Homo sapiens: one gene and its partner. The protein of the gene in region 2 purifies or fractionates together with the protein of the main gene of each other region. This does not show direct contact. Each region holds a gene or a part of one and is shown on either strand. Other genes may lie near its edges. The genes, in order: MYO18A and FAM9C.

Region 1 (8,047 bases), on a different chromosome or scaffold from region 2:
ATTCTGCTCAACCACACACTGCAGGTTGTAATCCCGCTCTGCCTCTGACTTGCTGTGTGACCTTCAGCCCATCATCCAACCTCTCTGAATATTAGAGAATAATCACAATAATCTCTTGTAAGTGATGATAAACTACTTGGCAGACAGAAAGGGCCCTGGGTCCTGTAAAATCATCAGTCTAACAACCAAAACTGCTGCCTGACTCTAAACTGTTTAAAATGTCAAGGGAAATTGACATTTTACAAGCCCTGCAATTCCTACCTCAAAAGAAGGGCAGGGAAGTGAAGGTGGGAAGTGGAGGCTCACCAGGTCTGCTCACCACCCCTCCCAATCCAGCTCCTACCTCGGCACCTCCCCAACTCCTCTAATTCAGGCCACCTTGGAAAATGCTAGGGGGAAGAAATGGTGATGGGGTGGGGTGTGCAGATCTTAAAGCACCCGGGGGTCTGACCCAAAGCAGAACTTAAACTCCATCAAGCTGCCCTACCAATCCCAAGTCCTGTGGGAACCTGTCAATTACAGCAGACAGTGGGCTGGGCCCTCCTACTGCCCCAAACCTTTAAACTACAACCAGCCAGAGCCCCTCAGTTTTCCCACCACACTCAGGCCTGGGACCCCAGGCCACCAACAAAACCCAGCTCACGTGGATGCTCTGGCTCCTGCCTGTGGCGTCCACCCCAGGTGAGAGGATCTGGCTGAGGAGAGACCTCTGGTTTGAAGGATTAAGAACAGCCCTGCTGCCCTGAAGACCTGTGACACAGCAAGTCCAGATGAAGGCTTCCTGAGTTCCAACAACTCCCAGCTCCACCTCAGCAGGGTGGATTCTCCCTTTCACATGAGCCCCAGTTCTGCCCCACCCAGTCCACCTTTAGGTACCTGCCTCTGGGGGACCCAGAGTTTTCAGGCCCAGTTTCTGAAGACACATGCAGTCCTCAATGAATAGCCACTACCAGGGCCAGTGAGGGGGCCTCCAGGGAACTGGCTGGCTACCCAGACAGCCCAGGAGTGAGGCTGAGAGACCAGGTGGGAGTCAGGAAGGGCATAACCCACATGAGGAAAGTCTGGGGCGCAGGAGGAAGCCCTCAGGCACACACTCTGGCACCTGGGCCAGGCCAGGAGAGAGTAAACAAACTAGACACTCAGAGCTACCAGGCACCAGGTCATCAACTGTTCAAAGTTCAAAGCTCCCAAAGGAAGTGACCGCCAGCCTGTGGCCCCTCCCATGCCCACCCTCCACCCCCACCTACAACCCTTCTCATTCCCCTAATCCCTCAACACAATAGCTGCCCCCAAAGCCATGGTTTTCCTGGAATTGAGGCCACAACCCCCATGTCCTCAACCCAAAATGGACAAGCACACCTCCACCCGAGGCTATATATAACCCGTCATGTCAAATCCAGAAACCAGGAGGATGTTTCCTGGAAAGACTTCATCACAAAAAAACAGAGAGGAAGCTGAGGAGGTGGGAAGCCATGGACAAAGAGCCAGTGAGGCTTGTCAGGAAGCCAGAGACCTCAGGAGAGCAACTTTCAATATCTCCAGATAGAAAGTAGCCCCTGAACTAAAAAGGGTGGGGAACATTAGGCCAGGCCTGTTGCCACAACAACAGGGCACCAACCTGCTCAAGAAAAGGGCTCCAAAGCACAAGGGAAAGGCGGCTGATTCAATGGGCTCTGTACTCACCGTCCTGCTCAGGTGATCTTGCTCTTAATCACCCAGGTGGCCTCCCCTCCCTTCCAGCACACCCCAGTGCATACACACTTCCCAGAGCTCACTTGCCACAGGGGCACTGATGAGGCCTTCTCGGCCACAGACACGCCAGGGGCTCCAAAAGACAAGACGAACCCACACTAACTAGCCCAAGTCATTGGCAGGGTGAAGCAGGGAGGGAATCCAATTCTTTAATTCGGGGTGGCCATCTGAGGGAATGAAAGCCCTAGCCAGGACAGTCCCTCTCAGGAAGCATTCCCCCAGCCCTCCCCACACAAATACAAACTATGAGGCCAGCGCCAAACACATGCCCCATTGGCAAAGTGGTCAGGCAAAATGAATACCCGCTCAAAAACAAACTGGCTGTCTTCCTCCCCATCTCCCCCACCCCCCACCTCTAGCTCATTCTGGCCGCAACCTTTCCAACTAATCAGCAAGACACATGTGCCTTGCAGTAGGGCAACTCCCCCATCTCCACCCCCAAAACAAAGCCCCAATGCCTGGCCTGTCCCTGCGGGCCTTATCGCACCCAGGAACATGACCCACACTCCTGGCCGGGTTTGGGACCAAGGAGCGCACCCCCACTAACAAGGGGCAGGGTGAGGGGGCAGCCACCCCTACCACCTCCCCTTCCCATTGGCGAAACAACTGGCATGACAGGTTAGCAGGGCGGGGCGTCGGGGCGGTCTCTCCAGAGGCCTGGGGCAGCTTGTCCGACCTTCCCACACGCACCCCACCCCTCTGCAGGGAAAGGTGAGGTGAGCATTCAGTCTCAGGGCACAGCCTGCACTCCCTAATCCCCAAAGCCTGCCACCATTCACCCTCTCATCTTCTGTCCCAAGAGGAGGGGGCCCAGGGAAGCGGGGTCTCCATTGTTTTGCCAGCTGTCTAGCAGCTGCTCCTTTGAGAGGAGCCCGCAGTCTGCCCGGCAGTGAAAGAGTGAAGGCCGCTGGGAGGGATAAAAGGGTCGGTAGAGGTGCTCCCCTTCCCCGCTGCCTTCCTCAGCGCCCCGCTCTCTCGCTCGCTCCATCGTGGGGCCTGGACGGGGGCAGGAGAAGTCCCCCCACCCTCGAGGCTGCAGCCCCCACCCCGCAGCTCCGGGCCACCTGGGCGCCTCCAAGCCCCAAATCCCCCCACACTGAAGGCCACCCTGTCCTGCCTCCCTGCGCCCCCCAGGTTGGCTGGAAGGGCCGGTGGTTCCCCCTTCCCCGCCGCTCCCGATCGGCCCCCACCCCCGGGCGTCGAGCTCCACGGCGCCGCCAGGGACGGGAGCCGGGAGTCCGGGCCGCTGCTTCCAGGGGACGGGGGAGGAGGAGGAGGAGCCGGCGGGCCCCGCCGCCCGCCCGCCCTCCCTCCCGGCCGGAGCCCGCCCCGCCGCCCCACCAAGCCGGGCCCGCCACCGAGCGGCCGCCGCCGCCGACCGGCACTCACCGGCCACCGGAGCCCGCCCGGCAGGCAGCAGAAGCGGAGACGCGGCATCCAGCAGCCTCGGCCCGGTCAGGGATGGAGCAGAGCGCAGCGCGGCGCAGCTCAGCGCCGCCCCCAGCGACCGCGCAGGCCGAGCCGAAAGGGAGCTCCCTGCTGGCGGCTGTGGGGATAAACGCCCGGCCTGCCTGGCAGCGCCAGTGCGCGCCGCCAGACGTGGGCCAGGCGGGCCGGGCGCTGCCCTGGCAGCCTCCGTCCGCTGTGGACTCCGAAGCCCCTCTCGCTGTGTCTGAGAGAGGCCCTGCCTGGAGTTTCTGTCTGCACTGGGCACTGGAGGCTGTCCGAAAAGGGTCCGAAAGGGGCTGAGTGGCACTGCCTAGGACAGGCACCAGGGTCATGATGAACGTATAGAAGAGGGGCTGTCCAAGGCAGGCACCGAACTCTGCAGGCTGTGTTCAAGGTAGTGCTGTCTAAAGGAAGCAATTAAGTCTTACTGGCCGCCTCCTCCCAAGGTGGCTCTGCAGAGGCACACACAGGGCCCTGCTGGATGGTGCCCCAGGCTCAGTCCAGACCAGGTACTGCCTGCCATGTCCGAGATGGCACTGCCAGAATGCACTCCCCAAGGTAAAAACAGACTCCCAATAGCTTGGTCTGATACAGCCCTGCCTCAAAATGGAGTGGATCAAGAGGCGTACCAGGGCCCGGGAGCCATGGCTGTAAGTGCCACTCACTCCCTAAAGGAGTTCACCAATGCCAAGATTAACACTTTCAGAAGCTCTTTGGAATGCAGTCTGTCCCTGGGTCCACTGTGTGCTGTAAATATCAAGTGAGCTGCTGTACCCACCAAGAAGACAGTTTATACTTCCTGGGAGAGGCCAAGGGACATCCAGATACCAGGCCTCCAAGATAGGTGCTATGTCTAGAGTTTGGAGAAAGAAAGAAATGGGGACACTTCCCTGGGCAGTGTCCATGCTGGAGTGGGGTGTGCCAGAATGTGGAAGAAACTGAGTGGGGTGGTGCAGGAAGAAGGGTGTAGCAGACAAATGCTGCTACCTCCCTAGACAGCCCAAACAGGAACTTCTCCAGGCAAGGGCAGCCCAACCTGACAGACCAGGGAAGGCTGGAGCAAGGAGGCTCAGAAAGCAGAGAGTTGAGTAAGAGTTAGGGAGTTCCTGAGGAATAGACCCAGGCGGGATACACATTTTGGAATAACATGCAACTCAAATTCAATTTAACAAACTGCCTGCTAAGTGCCAAGTGCAGCCCCAGGCACTTGGGGTGACACAGAAGGAGATCAGACATGGCATATCTCCAGGGAAATCACATGGGGAACAGGTAGACCTGAGCTGTGACAGTAGTAGGGTTCACCATGCTGGCATTACTTGGATGATGAGATAGGTGCTATGATGGGAGGCTTATTTGGCTTGAGGAGTGAGAAGAGCAGCTTCAAAAACATGACATTTGAGGCCAGGCATGGTGGCTTATGCCTGTAATCCCAGCACTTTGGGAGGCTGAGGTGGGCAGATCACTTGAGGCCAGCGTTCAAGACCAGCCTGGCCAACATGGCGAAACCCCATCACTACTACAAATACAAAAAATTAACCAGGCGTGGTAGTGCATGTCTATAATCCCAGCTACTTGGGAGGCTGAGGCAGGAGAATCTCTTGAACCTGGGGAGCAGAGGTTGCAGTGAGCGGAGATTACACCACTGTACTTCAGCCTGGGCGACAGAGCAAGACTCTGTCTCCAAAAAAGAAAAAAAAAAAACCCCAAAAACATGACATTTGAGCGGAACCTTGCAGGCTAAGTAGGACAACGACTATCATTAGTGTTTCCTGAGTACCTATTATATACTAGACACTATCTCTACTCCTCACAATGAACCTATGAGGGAGACATTATTATTATAGATAGGGGTTGAGTGCATGGACTCTGGAGCTGGATTGCCTGGATTCAAAATCTCAGTTCTGTAAAGTACTAGCTGTGTTACTCTGGGTGATTTTTTATAAATCACCTCTCTGTGCTTCACTTTGCTCATCCAAAAAATTGGGATAATAACAGTGACTCCCTCCCTCAAAATTTGTTTTGAAAATTATATAAGCTTAGTCTTTTCAACACATGGGGCTTTTCAACAAACTGGACATCCACATGCAAAAAAAAAAAAAGGGGGGGGTCTAGACACAGACTTTATACCCTTCACAAAAATTAACTCAGAATAGATTATATACCTAAATGTAAAACACAAAACTATAAAACTGTCTCCTAGAGGATAACATAGGAGAAAACCTAGATGACCTTGAGTATCACAATGACTCTTTAGATACAACACCAAAGGCACCATAAAAGAAAGAGCTGATAAGCTGGGCTTCATTAAAATTAAAAATGTCTGCTCTGCAAAAGACTGTCAAGAGAATGAGAAGACAAGCCACAACTGGGATAAAATATATGCAAAAGACATCTGATAAAGGATTGTTATCCAAAATACGCAGAGTTTTAAAAACTCAACAATAAGAAAATGAACCACCCAATTTAGAAATGGGCAAAAAACCTGATCAGACACCTTACCAAAGAAGATATACAGATAGCAGTAAGCAAAAGAAAAGATATTCAACACTGTATATCATTAGAGAATAGCAAATTAAAGCCAGGTGCGGTGGCTCACGCCTGTAATCCCAGCACTTTGGGAGGCTGAGGCAGGTGTGTCATGAGATCAGGAGCTCGAGACCATCCTGGCTAACATGGTGAAACCCCGTCTCTACTAAAAATATGCAAAAGACATCTGATAAAGGACTGTTATCCAAAATATGCAAAGAGTTTTAAAAACTCAACAATAAGAAAACCACCCAATTTAGAAATGGGTAAAAAACCTGATCAGACACCTTACCAAAGAAGATATACAGATAGTAGTAAGCAAAAGAAAAGATACTCAACATTGTATGTCACTAGAGAATAGCAAATTAAAGCCAGGTGCAGTGGCTCACGCCTGTAATCCCAGCACTTTGGGAGGCCGAGGCAGGTGGATCAGGAGGTCAAGAGATCCAGACCATCCTGGCCTACATGGTGAAACCCTGTCTCTACTAAAAGAACAAAAATTAGCCTGGTGTGGTGGCATGCACCTGTAGTCCCAGCTACTCAGGAGGCTGAGGCAGGAGATTCACTTGAACCCAGGAGGCAGAGGGTGCAGTGAGCCGAGATTGCACCACTGCACTCCAGCCTGGGTGACAGAGCAAGACTCCGTCTCAAAAAATAATAATAAATAAAAAATAAAAGAGAATAGCAAATTAAGATGACCATGAGGTAAAACTACTTTATTTACCTAAATTTGGATTTTGGCCAAAATCCGAAATGCCAACAACTCCAAATGCTAGCAAGAATGTAGAGCAACAGGAACTCCCATTCTCTGCTGGTAGCAAAATGGTATAGCCACTTTGAAAGACAGTTTGGTGGTTTCTTAGAAAATGAAACATATTCTTACCATACAATCCAACAATCCCACTCCTTGGTATTTATCCAAATGAATTGAAAACTTATGTCCACACAAAATCCTGCACATGATGTTTGTAGCAACTTTATTCATAATTGCCAAAACTTGGAAGCAACCAAGATGAACTTCAGTAGGTAAATGGACAAATAACCTATGGTATATCTAGACAATGGCATATTATGTGGCACTAAAAAAGAAATGAGCTATCAAGCCATGAAAAGACATGGAGGAAACTTAAATGTATATTAATAAGTGAAAGAAGCTGATCTGAAAAGGCTACATGTTGTATGATTCCAACTATATGGCATTCTGCAAAAGGCAAAACTATGGAGACAATAAAAAGGTTAGTGGTGCCATGGATTAAGGTTGAGGGAGGGATGAAAATGCAAAGCACAGAGGATTTTTAGGGCAGTGAAACTCTTCTGTGTGATACCGCACTGTTGAATACATGTCATTATGTGTTTGTCAAAACCCACAAAATGTACAACACCAAGAGTGAATCCTAATGTAAACCATGGACTTTGGGGGATACTGATGTGTCAATGTAGGTTCATCGATTGTAACAAATGTACAACTCTGGTGAAGAGTGTGATCGTGGGGAAGGCTGTGCATGTGTCGGGGCAGGGGGCATATGGGAAATCTCTGTACTTTATGCTCAATTTGGCTGTGAACTTAAACTGATTTTTAAAATAATATTTATTATTATTATTTTGAGACAGGATCTCAGTCTGCCACCCAGGCTGGAGTGCAGTGCTGTGATCTCAGCTCACTGGAACCTCTGCCTCCCAGGTTCAAGTGATTCTCCTGCCTCAGCCTCCCAAGTAGCTGGGATTGCAGGCATGTGCCGCCACACCAGGCTAATTTTTGTATTTTTAGTAGAGATGGGGTTTCATCATGTTGGCCAGGCTGGTCTCAAACTCCTGGCCTCAGGTAATCCACCCACCTTGGCCTCCCAAAGTGCTGGAATTACAGGCGTGAGCCATTTTGCCCGGCCTTGTATTTATTAATTTTTAAAAATTACATGATTTAATATATAAAAAGAACAATGCCCAGTACATGGTAAGCATTCTATAGCTGTTAGCTTGGTTATCTTTCCTAACTCATAGTTGTGGAAATGAAGCACAGACAGCTTTGTGACTTGTACCCAGCCTAAGAGTAGCAGAGTCAGGATTCAAACTGAGGTCCCTAAGGCTCCAAAGCCCATTCTTTTCCCTACACCATGGCAGTGAAATGAATAGGTATATTAACAACTCTTTTTTTTTTTTTTTTTTAGGAAGAGTTTCACTCTTGTTGCCCAAGCTGGAGTGCAATGGTGCCATCTTAGCTCACTGCAACCTCCGCCTCCCAGGTTCAAGCGATTCTCCTGCCTCAGCCTCCCAAGTAGCTGGGATTACAGGCGCCCGCCACCACACCTGGCTAACTTTTTGT
Region 2 (6,940 bases):
ACCTCTGCAGATCTCAAATGAGGATCTTCTTAGAAACTTGAAGTAGTAGTTAGACTTATACACCAACACATGCTTTGGGTAAAAGGAAAATCCTTTATGAAAATGCAAACTTTAGGAATTAAATGCTCCCCATAAGGACTCACTTATTCCTGCATAAGTGATTGCAGGCAGAAAAACAGAATCTGAATGAACTTGTTTTTCTTTTTTTCTTAAACTTGGAAAACCTAGAAAAACAAGAGTGGTATATAGGGGCCAATTAAAATAAAAAGCACAAGGAAAAATGAGAGGAAGTCGCTCCTCTCCTCCCAATGGGAGTATTGTGTTTTGAACAATTCATGAATGGAATTTCAGAAACTCAGCAAAAGAATACATTTAACTGACTTACTCCAAATATATTCTGAATTTCATATTTACTAAATAAAGTGTTTCCAAATGAACATTTTGTATGTTGTTACATGTAACAACTGCACATTACAAAAGGAAAGGTAGGAGAATTCATCACTTAAGTTTTTAGATGCATGTATACTTAAACTTCCACATACTCCACAAATACTAAACTCGAAAAACAAAGCACCCTACATAATTTACCTTGCCACAGATGTGAAATAATTGTAAGCATACATAAATGTTAATAAAATACTTTGAATCAATGTTAAGGGGAGATATCACTGAATGGTGGACCAAAACAAACCAAATGGCAATTTGATGTCTGTGGAAATGACATACCCAGAAGCCGGTGGCTCAGCACTGATATTAATATATCTTGCTCAGTTGTCTCAATCATTTATAGTAGTTTAATTTTTTCAAGAACACAGATGTTAAGGTACTTTTAATAATTTTGAAAGGCCACAGAGTTTATCTATTTTTTGAAGTCTTGCTTTCATTGGAATTGCTTCTTTAACTTAATGAGTAAATACAAAGAATGCACAGATAAAATAAGGGTTTGTCTTCTTTTATTAGAGAAAAATGTACTTTTCCATGCCCGTGCTTTCCACATTTTGGAACTGATACAGATCCACAGAGGCCAAACCTAAAACTAAATTATCTTTAATGTTAAAATTTAATTGACTGTGTATGTAACTGTGCAATTGCTGCTTTCTCACAGAACTGTCTAGGGTTCATTCAACAGATCATAGAAACGTGGTCTGGCATTTAACAAACAGACTAATAATAGAAGAGATATACTAATTTATACAAGAATTAACTAAACACTGTCATGTGGTTTAGTGTAGCTCAAGTTATGCATGTATCATATAACATAGGTTCAAGTTCTTTTGTCAGTCACCAGAATAACAGAGGTTGAAGATACATCTGAATAAGTGCCAACTCTTGCTGCAGCTGTTTCAAAAAAATAAATTTAAGTAATTGCGATACACATTTCTACAAATAAAATATTCCAGTGCTTACATCAATCCTGAGTTTTTAAGATAAAATATGCACTACTTACAATTACCACAATATTATTTTGGAACATGGCAATTTATTTTTTAAGTTGACTCTCTTCACCAAAAAGAGGGCTTTCATTATACTCTTCCAAGTCCTCACACTCTAAAACAAAAAGTCTAGTTCACTGACAAACCATCACTTTACAACTCACATTTTAAAGAGAGTAAATTAAATGTCAAAAGGAAACAGCTTTTAATATTCAAAGGATGCTGGTCATTTATTTCAAATTTAAAAACTGTAATCAGTACATGGAGCTCCAAATACTTAAAATTTTTAATGCCAGATTTTAGTGAAATATTATTATAGCAGGTCCAACAGTCATGTACTTTGCTTGAAGAAAATGGTTTGATGAATATGTTATGGTCAAGATGGAGCAAAAACAGAAAAAGACTGGTAGTCTTAGATCATGAAATACCATATTTTTTCACCAGATAGTGACCCATTTGTTATCACTAATAGTCGACATAACATGGTTTCCACTGAAGGGATAAAATGGTCTGTGACATGACCTCATCAAGTTAGAGAAAACATAACTATGTTTGAAATATATACTATTCTCTCAACAAATAGTTCAACAGTTCCTACTCCCTAAAAAGTGGTATGTTAATGCTGAGGAAGATGTAAAAAATGAATACACAATCTCTTCCATATTCCTGTGACATGAGCAAATATGCACGAATAAAAAAAATAATACAAAACTTATGTAACTGCTGTGGAAGAGCAACTCACTCGGACATGTAGCCAAAAATGGAGACTGATGTCCACTTAGTTGGCAAAAGATTTCAATCGATCAAAAAAAAAAAAGGACTTTAAAAGCATTGTGAGGGAAGAGCATGAGCAAAGCATGAGAGTAATGGAGAGGTCGTTCAGAGAAGGCTGTCAACCTGGAGAGGCGGGAAGAAAGACAGAAGGCAGTAAAACAAGCCTAAGAGGGGGTCATGTAAAGGGGAGAGTCTCTGAATATCTAAGAACTGACATGTGGATACCACTGATAGGCTGGGAAGAGTGAAGGGCTAGAAGCATTTTAGGAAGGGAAGAGTTTTAGGAAGATAGTATTTCTGATCAATGAAGGGTGGCTCAGAAGAGAAGAGAGAACTCAGAAAAGAGTTTAATAGTACAAGCAAGGAAGAATGAGTTCTTGAACTAGGGTTGCCTCAGTGGCAATTTAAAAAAAAGAAATTTAAGGACCATTGCAGAGTAAAACTTGCCTCATGAAAACTGTATGTGAAAGATAATGGACTCAGAAGAGTCCAAGATGATACCGAAGTTCCTACCCTAAGTGGTAACATGTAGCATTAACATTGACAGGAAAACTTTTCTAGTCTCATGTTCATACCAATTAATAAATGGTTTCTGGGGAACATTATAGCAACATGTTCTCTACTTGTGACTTCTATATAAATAACCGTTTTGTGTATAGATAATCTTTGAGTTGCTTGAAAATTCTATTTTCAAACTCTTTTCCCAGTTTATTTAACACATCTCAGTTAGTGTAGAGGAGTGACATATGAACATGTCTTTCCACAAGGTTATTAAAAAGAATATCTTACCTCCCAGAAGGGAATTCCATTGCTTCCTAAATAATATACATCTACATGAAGAAGCGGTCATTGTCCGATGACAATTTGCTAATGTGCTGTACGACAGCAGATAATTCACAATTCACAACATGTTAATAATCTGCTGGCTTTCCCATTCTGTTATACATCTGAACCATCTCTTATGATTACAAATTGTCATGTAAAACCATTACTAGTCACTAATAATTTTGAAAGTGAATATGCCATAAAACACTCCTACATTACAGCAGAAAACAAAAGAGATACTCAGTAGTTACATTTGCCTACTTCCTATTTAACTAAAACTCTTGAAACAACACAAGTAAAAAAGACATCCAGAAAGGACTTATGGACTTTCTGCCTTCCACTAAAGATTTGTCGCTGATCTCCTAAAAACTGAAAATAAAGTCTTCATTAATGTGTTCATAAGGTATCAATTTTTATACACAAGATGTATATTTCTAGGTAAAATTTCCAATTTACCTTTTCCTGTTCTAAATAACTCCTACAAAACTATTCATGAATCCTAAAAATACTGTTTTATGTTATTTTATGTTATTTACTACTTATGTTAAATCTGGAACAACACATTCAAAGTGAAAATGGTAAGTAATTTAAAATGTATAACCAAAATGTCTTTCCATACATTCAGAAACAAGCAGATTGTCTTCTATTTTTATGCATGTGTTGTATTTTATAAGAACGTATTGTGTTACCAAATAGAACAGACCTTTGTGAATTGCTCGTGTGGTGGCTCAATCTCTTTCAGTTCCTTTCCCATCTTGTTGCCACCTCTTTTGTTGCTCTTGAAATATTTTCTAGAGGCACAAAACAAAAAAGTGATTAAAATTGGGTAAATTTTAATACTTATAAAACATTCTGCATTAAAGAAATACTCTTTAAATCAATACTTCTGAACACTTTCTTTTAGACAACGTTTATGACCAATTTGAAACAATTGTGTTCACCACTCATGTGCTAAAACAATAACCTTTTTCATCAGTCATGGAGTAAAGAATTTTCTTTCTTATACATATTCAACACATACGTCTTAATTCTTGATTTCAAATGAAGAGTATTTGATGACCCTTCCTATAATTTGTTGACCACAGATAGGTAAGATCTATACAGAAATTAACTAAGAAACATTCTTTCTTACTAAGATTTTAAACACCTGTTAAATCTTGGTCATTTCAATATGTACATAGATAAACCTTCCATTAATGATTGCCTTTCTGCACCTTGACCTAATCTCCAACAATAGTGTTCTCCTCTCCTCTACGTGGCACTCACAGTCATCCCCTAAATTTTGTCATTCCCAGTGACTGCAGTATCTACATAATATTAATAATAGCAATGATAAACAGCAACCATGGGTCAGATCGCATCCTGAAAAATTTAAATAAACCTGTTACACAGGAACCCTTTAATCCTCCAAACAACTCTGAAATAGGTACCCTCACCATGTCTCCTTTCGTATATAAAGTAACTTTAGCACAGAGATAAATAATATGCCCATGGTTCCTGAACTAGCAATGGTCAAACTGGAATTGGATCCCAAGCAGTGGGGCTCCAGAGTCGCAGCCCTTGACCACTGCACTCATCTGTTTCTCCATCTTCCCAACATACAGCCACTACCTTCCTGCCACTGTAGGTCACTCACTTCAGTACTACAGCTCAGGAGTCTGTAGGGACCTGACGCCTATTGAATGGAGCACTTTTCACTGCCCAATGCCCCACCCCCATGTGCTCAGGTAACTCAGCCCCAGCTGAAATTCCACAGCCAGTCATCATAACCCCATCCCTGCCTCTATGCCCTGTCCAACTCTCCCTCTATCAACATGCTCGGCTACACCCCAACCCAGGAAATTCCAACCCTACAGCTGCTCTTGCACAAATATGCCAACTGAGTTCACTTTAACTTCTTCATCGCTATGATGCTGACTTCAGTTGGACCCCTAATGCTGCATGGCAATTATATTCCCCTAGTCCATGAGTCCACTAATGGGCGACCCTCTCTGGGCTCATGCTCTCTTCCTTCTTTGCTGGATTTCTGCATGAACTATTACTACCTGAGACATTGATACAATAGGTTAATCATAAAGCTAAGCCTGATACCAACAATTTGTTCTTCCTTTTCTCCATCTCCTTCCTCATCTTTCTGCTCATCTGTGATGAACTCTTCAAGGACATTCGGCAACTTCAGAGAAATTCTATAATCACGTTTCTGCCTGTAACACATAATAAGTAACAAGGTCATACGTCATAGAGGGATGAAAAATTAATCCTATTCAAACCAAAACTGACTTGACATAGTTTGTACTATAAAGTAGCAAGGGAGTAATAGCAGCTGAAATCTTCTTTTTGGGAAAAGGTGAAATGAGTTACTGTCATTCTGAAAGGATCCCTTCCTAACTGACTACTAGAGCAGCTATCTTACATTCTTTACCTGCTGAAGACAAAGGAGGGTTTACTGCACTATAAATTTCCCAGAAACAATCTTTTTCTCCAAGAGCAGTTTACTTTTCATTTCTTCTTACTAAATAACATATGCGTTCTCATAAGGAGGTGCAAGAATATCATAGCCATTCATCCCGTAAGATTTCCCGAAAGAAATACTTCACTTAACTATTTCTCCACTTTGGCACGACAATGATCTAAAAGGAATAGTGAAAACAATTTAACTAAAATAAATAACTTATTTACAACACAAGGTTATCCCTTTCTACATAATTGAATATTGTTAAGAATCTACAGACTAAACGTTGAAGACATTTATCTTATATTCACCTACCGTATTTCTAGAAATGGATAAACATTAATTTTACAGGAAGACTTTTTATCTGGAAGGCAAAAAGAGGTCATCTTCATTGGCTTCTAGGTAATATCTCTCAATTCTGTTAAATTGAGGTTATAAAACTAAAGAAACTTACCTGTTTAGGGAACAATCAAGTAAAATATGTTGTTCCCTAGAGACACCAATATGTACAGGATAGTTCTGGAAATTATTTGCACCAATGAATACAAAGAAATGATATAAATATCATTATTCAAAAAAGCCAACAATCATACCTTTTTAGTTGTGTTGTTCTCAAAACATTTTTAATTCTGTTCTTTATTTCGCTGCAAGCTTTTGCAATCTTTTCAATCCTTTTTCTCTTTGCAGCAAGATGCTCTTTAATGTCAGCTAGATAGTAAATGAATATGCATTAAATGTTCATGTTGAAAAGTAGTTTCTTTGCATATATTAAAATCAATATGGGACTTGATGGTTCAGCAATATCAGAAGGACATTTAAAATGTAAAATGCAAAGATCATTTCAAAAAGCAAGATTTACTTACTTTATGTAAAACCTTTCAGGTATTAGTATTCCAATTTCAGTTGGTATAACAGCAAATCACTTAATTGACAGATAATGAAAAAAAGCAAATAATTAAAAGTTTCTATTTTTTAAGTGTGCAGAAAGGGTTACAAACACAGACTTTAATTTCTTTTTTTTTTTTTTTGAGACAGAGTCTCGCTCTGTCACCCAGGCTGGAGTGCTGTGGCACGATCTTGGCTCACTGCAGCCTCCGCCTCCCGGGTTCACGCCATTCTCCTGCCTTAGCCTCCCGAGTAGCTGGGACTACAGGCGCCCGCCACCACGCCCGGCTAATTTTTATATTTTTAGTGGAGACGGGGTTTCACCGTGTTAGCCAGGATGGTCTTGATCTCCTGACCTCGTGATCCACCCACCTCGGCCTCCCAAAGTGCTGGGATTACAGGTGTGAGCAACCGTGCCCAGCCACAGACTTTAATTTCTACATTTATAAAATGTCCTACAATTCAAAGGACATGTTTCCGTGAAATACTGTCACAACTCATTATGTAAAGCACAAAAAAGTATCTGATTTAATAAGACCATCAAAAGGGTAGAAATAACTTAATACACAAT

The links.
Region 1: the proteins of FAM9C (region 2) and MYO18A purify together in Homo sapiens (co-immunoprecipitation; 2 studies listed by BioGRID and IntAct, with this or other methods). This does not show direct contact.

What each region holds. Positions count from the first base shown.
Region 1 is NC_000017.11:29,177,172-29,185,218, forward strand, and holds the start of MYO18A (unconventional myosin-XVIIIa), read right to left. Parts: upstream 3,228-8,047; 5' UTR 3,142-3,227; intron 1-3,141.
Region 2 is NC_000023.11:13,034,681-13,041,620, forward strand, and holds the end of FAM9C (protein FAM9C), read right to left. Parts: intron 6,193-6,940; coding exon 6,078-6,192; intron 5,237-6,077; coding exon 5,128-5,236; intron 3,824-5,127; coding exon 3,761-3,823; 3' UTR 3,736-3,760; exon of another isoform or gene 1,339-3,735; 3' UTR 937-1,338; downstream 1-936.